Linked DNA regions of Homo sapiens: region 2 is linked to region 1. Evidence: fine-mapped expression QTL. A gene starts in region 1. The other region holds a variant in brackets. All regions are shown on one strand. Distances are from middle to middle.

What was found. PIP is the estimated chance that this variant, and not a neighbour inherited with it, causes the effect.
Region 2: its variant is the best candidate, but not a certain one, in a credible set for the expression of PNPLA6 in testis (GTEx, PIP 0.81).

Annotation. Positions count from the first base shown.
Region 1 is chr19:7,533,180-7,538,547 of GRCh38, forward strand. It overlaps PNPLA6 (patatin like domain 6, lysophospholipase), which reads left to right and starts at 2,538. Exons shown (of 32, transcript NM_001166114.2): 1 at 2,538-2,841; 2 at 3,012-3,094; 3 at 3,270-3,367. The coding sequence starts at 2,610. MCOLN1 (mucolipin TRP cation channel 1) reads left to right here. Exons shown (of 14, transcript NM_020533.3): 13 at 344-474; 14 at 580-830. The coding sequence ends at 616. RefSeq lists an enhancer at 2,373-2,612.
Region 2 is chr19:7,554,112-7,559,479 of GRCh38, forward strand. It overlaps PNPLA6 (patatin like domain 6, lysophospholipase), which reads left to right. Exons shown (of 32, transcript NM_001166114.2): 20 at 98-161; 21 at 444-612; 22 at 782-964; 23 at 1,138-1,256; 24 at 1,496-1,652; 25 at 2,342-2,458; 26 at 2,544-2,613; 27 at 3,057-3,173; 28 at 4,739-5,040. Among named protein-coding and RNA genes, the nearest start is that of PNPLA6, 21 kb to the left of the region's middle. The variant C/T (reference allele first, on the strand shown) is at 2,651.

The DNA.
Region 1 (5,368 bases):
GCCCTGCTCCCACTGCTGTGCTCAGCGTGCATCCAGCTCACTCAATAGATGGTTTCTGAGCATCGAGGTCATGTCAGCCCTGGCTCTAGGTCTGTAGGTGCTGGACCTACAGCAGAAGGCAAAGACACAGACTGGCAAAGACACAGCTTGTATCCAGGTTCAGGGGTCAGGGAAGGTCCCTCTGTGCAAGCAAACTGTGGAACAACGGGTGGAGCAGGCCCAGCAAGTGCAAAGGCCCGGAGGTGGGAAGCGATGCAGATATGGCTGGAGGGGAGGGCGGACTTCAAGGGCCTTGGAGGTTGGGAGCCACTTTCAGGCTGAGCCTCCCGGCTTCTCTCCCCAGCATCCCGGCGGCGCAGGCGCAGAGGAGAGCGAGCTGCAGGCCTACATCGCACAGTGCCAGGACAGCCCCACCTCCGGCAAGTTCCGCCGCGGGAGCGGCTCGGCCTGCAGCCTTCTCTGCTGCTGCGGAAGGTTCGAGTCCCGGGTCTGGCACATTCAGATTGGAGGTTAGGGAATGGGGAAAGGGGAGCGAGCCAGAGAAAACTGACGCCCCTCTTCCCTGCTTCCTTCCTCCAGGGACCCCTCGGAGGAGCATTCGCTGCTGGTGAATTGATTCGACCTGACTGCCGTTGGACCGTAGGCCCTGGACTGCAGAGACCCCCGCCCCCGACCCCGCTTATTTATTTGTAGGGTTTGCTTTTAAGGATCGGCTCCCTGTCGCGCCCGAGGAGGGCCTGGACCTTTCGTGTCGGACCCTTGGGGGCGGGGAGACTGGGTGGGGAGGGTGTTGAATAAAAGGGAAAATAAATGTGTCGTTTTCATTTTTAGCGGGAGGAGCAGTCCTTGCGTTAAGCGGTGTGAGGCCCTTTAAGGCGCGGCCACACTCAGCATGGCGGCCTCAGTCGGCCTTCCAAGCATGGCGCGGGGAGGAGGGGTGGGAGGGTCGGGAGGGACTGCGGTGCGACTAGGAGTGAATAATTTAAAGGGGCCGTGCCTGCGGAGCCGGGCGGAACGCTAGCGGTGTTGGCGCGGAGTGGACCCCGGCTGCGGCCCCTGGGTGAGTCTGGGTTTCCGTTAGCCTCGCAGGGGTGTCCCTTCGAGGGTCGTTAGCGAGCCTCCGCTTTCCCACGATCTGTCCTCCGATTCCTGTTAACTCTAGACTTTCTGATGTTCCCATACCCCCCACGTCTCGGCAGGTGTTTCCACACCGGTAGCCAGCTGTGCCCTGAGGTGGAAGAGGACCGGCCACCCAGGAATTTTCCAAGTAACGACTCGGAGTCTCCGGGATTCCTATCTCCCGGCCCCCGAATTTCCATTAATATTCTAGCGATGTCAGAAACATCCTCAGCTTCCCAGAAAAATCCCAGTAATATTCCAGCATCTCTCAGTATCTTCCAAGGAGCCCGGACGCCCTCCCCAGGCCCGCTCTCATAAGCACCCCAGGAATGTGCCCACCCACCTCCTGGTTTTCCCAGCAGTAGTATTGTAATCCTCAGAATCTCAGTAACTTTCCAGTGACCCCGCATCCCCACCCACTAATCCCAGCGTCTCTGGTTACGCCTCCCAGCAATGGCGCCACCATCGGTCCCGGAGTCCCAGTGATGCTCTGTGCCATAGAGCCCCCATAACTTCACTACTACGTGATAGTAAATCCCCGGCAAAAACCAGCAGCGCCTTGCAAGCCCACGCCACCCCAAGCATCCCAGGACTCTTCTGAAACGTGGGTATCAGACGCCTTCCGCGGATGCCCCGGCAGTACTCCCGTGCCTCCCAGCTCCTGGGTCTTCCCCGGGGCAGGCTTGCGTCGGGAGCCGAGTATCTAGGTGCCCACTCCCGGACCCCACGGTTTGCGGGCCCGTTTTCCTGGGGTGGGGCATTCAGTCTTCGACGGAGTAGGGGGTGCGGCCTGGGGGGTGGGGTGGTCAGGCTTGATCAACCCTGCAGAGGGCAGTGACCCGGGAGGAAGTCACCAGGTGCAGAGGACCGTGCCCTGTGGGGACCTGCCTGCAGGCTGCTGACAGTGGGTACCAGGTCGGCCTTTGGCCCCGGGGTGGGGTTGGACAGGCGGGCGTCTGGTAGGCCCTACGCGTAGGCGAAGGGAGCAGGAAGCCGGGGACCCGCCTCATCTCCTGGCCAGGGCCGAGAGGTCGGTTTGCTCCATCCCTTAGTCCCGCAGCGCCCCTCTAGCCTCGCCCCTGGCAGCTGGAGACGCTTCCCCCGCCACCCCAGAGGGCAGGGCTTGAGCTGGGGGCAGGGCTTGAGGCAGGGGAGAGGTGGGCCCAGATTGACGACTTGCACGGGTTCCTTCGACTCCTTGATTTCCCAGGACTCCGGGCTACCAGATCGGCCGTCCAGCTGGAATCAACCGATGGAGGCTCCGCTGCAAACTGGAATGGTAAGGGGTGGGGCGGAGACCGGGTAGGTGCCGGCGTGGGGCGCCAAGAGGACTACAACTCCCGGCGTGCTCAGCGCGCATTACGTGGTCTGGCGATAACGCGCTGCGTCCGCTCGGGCGGAACTACGTTTCCCGGCATGCACTGCGGGCCGCCGGGCCTCAGGGAAGAGTCGCGCCCCCGGGGAGGGAGCAGCACTGGCCCATTCTGCAGATGGGGACATCGAGTCACGGGCTGGCTACGAACTCCTCGGGGGCGAAGGTGGCGGAGAGGGATGGGTTCCAGGACGTCCTGGCGCCCGGGGAAGGCTCGGCGGGACGGATTTGCGGTGCGCAGCCAGTGCCGTTCGTCCCTCAGGTGCTTGGCGTGATGATCGGGGCCGGAGTGGCGGTGGTGGTCACGGCCGTGCTCATCCTCCTGGTGGTGCGGAGGCTGCGAGTGCCAAGTGAGCACCCGAGGGGCCCCTCTTGGGAGGCTGTATGGTGGGGGGCCCAAATGCCCGGGTCCCGAGGCGGCAGAGATGGGGATTTGCTGGCGTCTGTTCGCGGTACCCCAGCTCTGGCAGGGTGGAGTCTGCACAGAGCTCGGAGTGCCCCTGTCCCCACCTATCCCCAGAAACCCCAGCCCCGGATGGCCCCCGGTATCGGTTCCGGAAGAGGGACAAAGTGCTCTTCTATGGCCGGAAGATTATGCGGAAGGTGAGTCCGGGACCCCTGGGGTCCGCCCTGACCACACAGAGGCCGCGCCCCTTCCCTATTTACACTTCTTAGTGTCCGCCACCGCTCCTTCCTTGATGGAGACCCCCTGGATCCGTCTGCCTCTTCTCCAAGGTCTGAATTAGCAATTCACCCATCTCCGCCTTCATTCTCCCAGGTGTCACAATCCACCTCCTCCCTCGTGGATACCTCTGTCTCCGCCACCTCCCGGCCACGCATGAGGAAGAAACTGAAGATGCTCAACATTGCCAAGAAGTAAGGCTGTGCTGGGTGTGACCTGGTATTAGGGGTTATCTCAGGGGCCTTTTGAGTAATCAGCTTACACCAAAGTGTTGTGGAAGTCTTCCCATATTGGCTGCGCGCTGTGGCTCATGCCTGTAATTCCCAGCACTTTGGGAGGCTAAGGCGGGCAGATCACCTGAGATCAGGAGTTTGAGGCCAGCCTGGCCAACATGGCAAACCTCATCTGTACTAAAAATACAAAAATTAGCTGGGCGTGGTGGCATGGGCCTGTAATCCCAGCTACTCAGAAGGGTGAGACAGGAGAATCACTTGAATCTGGGAGGTGGAGGTTGCAGTGAGCTGAGATCATGCCACTGCACTCCAGCCTGGGCAATAGAGTGAGACTCTGTCTCAAAAAAAAAAAAAAAAAAAAAAAAAAGAAGAAGAAGAAGAAGAAAGTCTTCCTGTTTCAGAGAGACATCTCTGGACTCTCCTCTCAGAGCTCTTCCACACCAGACATGCTGTCTCTAGGGTATCTCTTCCCTGAGGGCTACCTCAGTGACCTTCTCCTTCCACTGGAGTATCTGAGCTATTTGTTCCCAAGTCAATATCTCAGAGGTCTTGCCATATACTTAGTGGGGGGGTCTACATCAGGGGTTTCCATGTAGGTTATTTCATGAGTCTCTTCACATGAGTGGTTTTCTTCCAGGGTACCTCACTGAGGTAATTGTGTTTCTACGATCTCCTAAAGGGGCTATCTCCAGCCTCCAGCCTCTCTTCTCCGGGGGTTATCTCAGGCATCTCTGTACATCAGAAGGCATCTTTCCTATGTTATGGACCTTGAAGTTCTTCCCACACTAAGGAGGCTGTCTCAGGAGTTTCTGTTCCCTAGGGGCTATCTTATGAATTTTCTTGCACTAGAAATATAGGAAGGATGCATCAGAGATCCCTGTTGGCAGCAAGGTCTGCGAGAAAGGCTCTCCAACTCTCTTTGCAAGTTGGGTGCTGGCTCTGGGATCCCTGTGCGTCATGTAGTCTACCTGGAGGTCTGCCTCAAGGGTTTCTTCACACCAGGGCAGGGCTCTCCATGATCAATAGTCCTGCAATGGCAGTCCTTTCTTTTTTGTTTGTTTGTTTGTTTGTTTTTGAGATGGAGTCTTGCTCTGTCACTAGGCTAGAGTGCACTGGCACGATCTCGGCTCACTGCAACCTCCACCTCCTCGGTTCAAAAGATTCTCCTGCCTCAGCCTCCCGAGTAGCTGGGACTACAGGCTCATACCACCATGCCCAGCTAATTTTTGCATTTTTAGTAGAGACGGGGTTTCACCATGTTGGCCAGGATGGTCTCGATCTCTTGACCTTGTGATCCGTCCGCCTCGGCCTCCTAAAGTGCTGGGATTACAGGCATGAGCGACTGAGCCCGGCCAATGGCAGGGCTTTCTGTGAGTTGAGTAGAAGGACTATCTCAAAGTTCCCCATGATCAGTTGAGGGTCTATACCTCAGGTTTCTCCACATCACAGGAGCTGTCTGTAGTGTTTGCACACTCTTAAGGGACTACCCTGATATCTTCATGATTGTCAGAGGGCTGTCTGAGCTTTCTGTGACCTAGGGAAGAGTTAGCCCAAGATCTCCCTGATCAAAAAAGGAATAATCATAACAATTATAATTATTATTATTATTTTGGAGACAGGATCACACTTTGTTGTTGAGGCTAGAGTGCAGTGGCACAATCACAGCTCACTGCAGCCTTTACCTCCTGGGCTCAAGAGATCTCTCCTGCCTCAGCCTCTTAAGTAGCTGAGACCATGGGCATGCACCACCATGCCTGGCTAATTTTTAAATTTTTTTGTAGAGATGGGAGTCTCACTGTGTTGCCTGGGCTAGTCTTGAACTCCTGGCCTCAAGCAATCCTCCCACCTCGGCCTCCCAAAGTGCTGGTATTACAGGCATGAGCCACCACGCCCAGCCAAAAAAGGAATTATATCTGAATTTCTTGATTTCACTGAGTTTAACTCAGGGTCCCATCCTCCAAG
Region 2 (5,368 bases), 21 kb after region 1:
CAGGGCCACAGGGGCGGGGTAATGGGTATTCTTTTCTGAGTTAGGCCCCAGCCCTGTGGACCATGGTTCCCAGCCTCCCTTCCCCACCTACCCCTAGGTCCGACGCTACTCCTTAACAGTGACATCATCCGGGCACGCCTGGGGGCCTCCGCACTGGATAGGTGTGTGTTGCAGAAGGGAGTGGGGAGGGTGGTGGGTGGGCCTGGAGCCTCAAATTCTTTCAGACCTGAGTTCAAGTTCTTGGCTTCCAACCACGGAGCCTGCGTCTTACCCATAGGTCAATGGGGAGATTCGCAGTGGTGTGAATCTGCCCACCGGAGCACGGACTTCCGTGGTGGGGGTTTGGGTGTCTAAGTTCCTCCCAGCAACGGAGCTATGTGGTCTCGGGGAGCACACTGACCCCAGGCCAACCCCAGGATGACGCTGCCCCCTTCCCACCCTAGCATCCAAGAGTTCCGGCTGTCAGGGTGGCTGGCCCAGCAGGAGGATGCACACCGTATCGTACTCTACCAGACGGACGCCTCGCTGACGCCCTGGACCGTGCGCTGCCTGCGACAGGCCGACTGCATCCTCATTGTGGGCCTGGGGGACCAGGAGCCTACCCTCGGCCAGGTCGGAAGCCCGTGCCCCCTGATCTCACCCACCTCGGGTCCCGTCCTTTGCCCTCCCGTGCCTGCACCAGGCCACGTGCACCCTCGCCATGGGGGTAGGCGATCAGGGACCCAGGTGTGGCCAGGTGGTGGTGGGGCGGCTGGTGACCTCAGCCGTCCGTATTCCGCAGCTGGAGCAGATGCTGGAGAACACGGCTGTGCGCGCCCTTAAGCAGCTAGTCCTGCTCCACCGAGAGGAGGGCGCGGGCCCCACGCGCACCGTGGAGTGGCTAAATATGCGCAGCTGGTGCTCGGGGCACCTGCACCTGCGCTGTCCGCGCCGCCTCTTTTCGCGCCGCAGCCCTGCCAAGCTGGTGAGGAGCGGGCCGGCCCCCACCTTCTAGGGGCGTGGCTGGTGGGCGAGGCTTGGGAGACTGGGGCGGGGCCTGGGAGGGCTGAGGACAGGCTCGAAGGTCAGGGTACCCCTGGGGGATCCGCCGGACCCCGCCCTCATGCTCCTGGGTCGCGACTATCTCCCCCATCCCAGCATGAGCTCTACGAGAAGGTTTTCTCCAGGCGCGCGGACCGGCACAGCGACTTCTCCCGCTTGGCGAGGGTGCTCACGGGGAACACCATTGCCCTTGTGCTAGGCGGGGGCGGGGCCAGGTGAGGGCGGGGCTTGCTCTCTGGGGGCGGGGCCTGGATGTCCGAGGGTGGAGCTTCCTGGGAGAAACCGTGGGGGCGGGGCCTGGGTGTTCGAGGGTGGAGCTTCCCCTCCGGGAGAGACCCCGTGGGTAGGGGCGGGTCCTTTGTTCCTTAGCAGTGCGGGAGGTGGGAGGAGGTAGGGGCAGGGGAGTTCCTGCAGGTGGGGCCTAGCGGGTCACTGGGGCCCATTTTCCCGGCAGGGGCTGCTCGCACATCGGAGTACTAAAGGCATTAGAGGAGGCGGGGGTCCCCGTGGACCTGGTGGGCGGCACGTCCATTGGCTCTTTCATCGGAGCGTTGTACGCGGAGGAGCGCAGCGCCAGCCGCACGAAGCAGCGGGCCCGGGAGTGGGCCAAGGTGTGTGTTGCGAGGAGGGATTGCTGCACCCCAGGAGTGCCATAAAACCCGTGGTTCCAACCTAACCTGATCCCATGGGGGAGCCTCCGGGGTCAGGGTGACCCTTCCTGATTAAATCTATGATCCCCAGCTGTCCGGACTTTTATAGATAAGCTTCTAGGACTCTGGGTAACCACTTTGGGACCTCCTGTCTACTGACCCTAACCCATAACCCCCAACGAGAGCACCCAGGGCCCTTGGTGACCACCTTGTGGATGGCCTTGGATGACCACATCATCCCTAAGTGTTCCTTTTTTTTTTTTTTTTTTTTTTTTTTTGAGACTGAGTCTTGCTCTGTCGCCCAGGCTGGAGTGCAGTGGCACAATCTCGGCTCACTGCAACCTCCACCTCCCAGGTTCAAGTGATTTATCCGCCTCAGCCTCATGAGTAGCTGGGATTACAGGCACGCCCCACCAGCCCGGCAAATTTTTTTGTATTTTAGTAGAGATGGGGTTTCACCATGTTGGCTAGGCTGCTTTTGAACTCCTGGCCTCAAGTGATCTGCCCGCCTTGGCCTCCAAAGTGCTGGGATTACCAGTGTGAGCCGCTGCACCTGGCCCCTAAGTGCTGCTTGCTCACCCCCTATTGATGAACCTTATCTGTGACCCCATGTAACTCCTATTTGACCCTGTCTGGCCCCTTGTCCCTAGAGCATGACTTCGGTGCTGGAACCTGTGTTGGACCTCACGTACCCAGTCACCTCCATGTTCACTGGGTCTGCCTTTAACCGCAGCATCCATCGGGTCTTCCAGGATAAGCAGATTGAGGTAGGCCCACCTCATCCCCTGCCCTGCCTACCCCTCCCCGGAGGAGCCCCCTGCTCCTCCCCCACCTCGATCCCTGTCCCCGCAGGACCTGTGGCTGCCTTACTTCAACGTGACCACAGATATCACCGCCTCAGCCATGCGAGTCCACAAAGATGGTGGGTGTCCCCGCCCAGCCTGCAGCAACCGCTGACG[C/T]CACGTGGGGTTGGGGGGATGCTTCCGGGAGGGCCGCTGAGCTTCTGGGACGTTGTTAACACGAGTGACCGTCCACCCTGGCCCGATCACCGACCACTAACCGCCACCCACTAATGCCCCGGAGACCCCAGGTACGTCCGTCCTTGGGGGAGGGGAGCAGGGAGACTCGTCGGACGCCTTACCCCCCTCACGCCATCCCCGCAGGCTGTGTGTGGCGTTACGTCCGGGCCAGCGCCTCCTACTGCCCCTACCTGCCCCCACTGTGCGACCCCAAGGACGGGCACCTGCTGGTGGACGGGTGCTACGTTAACAACGTCCCAGGTCAGCGAGCCCATCGGGCCGGCTGGGCCTCCGGCGTGTCTGAGCGTGTCTGTGCGTGTTTGTGTCTGTGTGTCCCACCGCGCAGGCTCCCTGTGGCGGTACGTGCGCGCCAGCATGACGCTGTCGGGCTACCTGCCCCCGCTGTGCGACCCCAAGGACGGGCACCTACTCATGGATGGCGGCTACATCAACAATCTGCCAGGCAAGTGGCCGCCCGCACCACCCGCACACGCAAGCACCTCCCGCACCACACACACGCACACGCGTGGGCACACACAGACAGGCTCGATGACGGGACACATGCCCAAGCTGCCCATGCAGGGGTGCAGACACACATGCGCACACATACGATCACTTGCACAAAATGATACATGAATGTGCCTGTGGACAGCGACATGTGCAGTTGAGATCTACATTCTGGCCAGGCGCGGTGGCTCAGCCTGGAATCCCAGCACTTTGGGAGGCCTGAGGTGGGTGGATCACCTGAGGTCAGGAGTTTGAGACCCGCCTGGCCAACATGGTGAAACCCCGTCTCTACTAAAAATACAAAAAATTAACCAGGCTGGTGGGGTGTGCCTGTAATCCCAGCTACTCAGGAGGCTGAGGCAGATAAATCACTTGAACCTGGGAGTTGGAGGTTGCAGTGAGCTGAGATCATGCTACTGCACTCCAGCCTGGGCGACAGAGCAAGACTCAGTCTCAAAAAAAAAAAAAAAGAAAGAAAGAAATCTACATCTACCTGCTGGCGTGCTGTGTTAAGCACAAGTGGATGTACGTACAAGAGGGACAGGTGCACACGTCCACACACACATCAGGGGACATGCAGGTGGAATGCAACACTCGTGTGCACACCAGCTATATATGCACATGCTTTCTCTCAGGGGCAGGTAGGGCTTACACACACGTGTACACACAGGCACATGTGCACAGATGAACACGTGTGTCAGTGAAATAGGGCATTTGCCAACGCATGCCAGTCTGTCCCGTTTGTCCTGCACGTTCCCTCAAACACGCAGGGATGTGCACACACGTAGATAGGATGCGGCACCTCTGACCGAGTTAAGTCATGCCTACCACCTTTATGGGTGCAGGTGAGAAGCGGGCAGGTACACAACTTAAAATCTCACACCCCAGAAGTGTGCATATATGAACAGACATGTACGCCAACTGCACACATGCTCACAATCTTGTAGGCCAGGGGTGGGCAAACTATGGCCCACAGGCTGAGTCCTGCCCTCTGTTTGATTGTATAAATAAAGCTTTATTGAGCTGGGCACAGTGGCTCATGCCTGTAATCCCAGCACTTTGGGAGGCTGAGGCGGGTGGATCACTTGAGGTCAGGAATTCGAGGCCAGCCTGGCCAACATGGTGAAACCCGGTTTCTACTAAAAATACAAAAATTAGCTGGGCGTGGTGGTGTATGCCTCTAATCCCAGCTACTTGAGAGGCTGAGGCAAGAGAGTTGCTTGAACCCGGGAGGTGGAGGTTGCATCGAGCCCAGATCGTGCCATTGCACTCCAGCCTGGGCGACAGAGTGAGACTCTGTCTCAGAAAATAAAACAAAACCTCCCAACACCTGACCCCCCTCCTCAACTTCAGTTGCATCATTTGCACGTCTGTGCATGACAGCATGGTGTTTGCATGTGTGGGTATTCTCTCTTTTTTTTTTGCGTGATCATTTGCATGATGGCATCTGTGGGACTGGGTTGAACATCTCTGCCCCGGGCCCCCGAGGGGAGCAGCCCGCTGACCCCCCTGGCCCCACAGCGGACATCGCCCGCAGCATGGGTGCCAAAACGGTCATCGCCATTGACGTGGGGAGCCAGGATGAGACGGACCTCAGCACCTACGGGGACAGCCTGTCCGGCTGGTGGCTGCTGTGGAAGCGGCTGAATCCCTGGGCTGACAAGGTAAAGGTTCCAGACATGGCTGAAATCCAGTCCCGCCTGGCCTACGTGTCCTGTGTGCGGCAGCTAGAGGTTGTCAAGTCCAGCTCCTACTGCGAGTACCTGCGCCCGCCCATCGACTGCTTCAAGACCATGGACTTTGGGAAGTTCGACCAGATCTATGTGAGTGGGCAGGAGTGGCATGGTGCCTGCATAGGTGGTCCGGCTAAGCTTTGCTACTTAAAGCCCAGAGTGGTATGAGGGGGAGGAATCCAGGAGGAATCCAGGAATCCCATCTGGAATCTCTGGAAAACAGATCAGTGATCAATTGGTGATGTCTGCAGGGGATGTAGTAGGGGTGTGGCTGTGCATGTGCTGTGTAAGAACTTTCTCCTTATAGGCCAGCTGCACCCCTGGAAGCACTGTATAGTGATTTCTACTGCCATTTCTGCATTGGTGGGAATGAGAATAGTGATGAAGCAGAAATGTCTGCCACAGTTCCAGGAGAGGG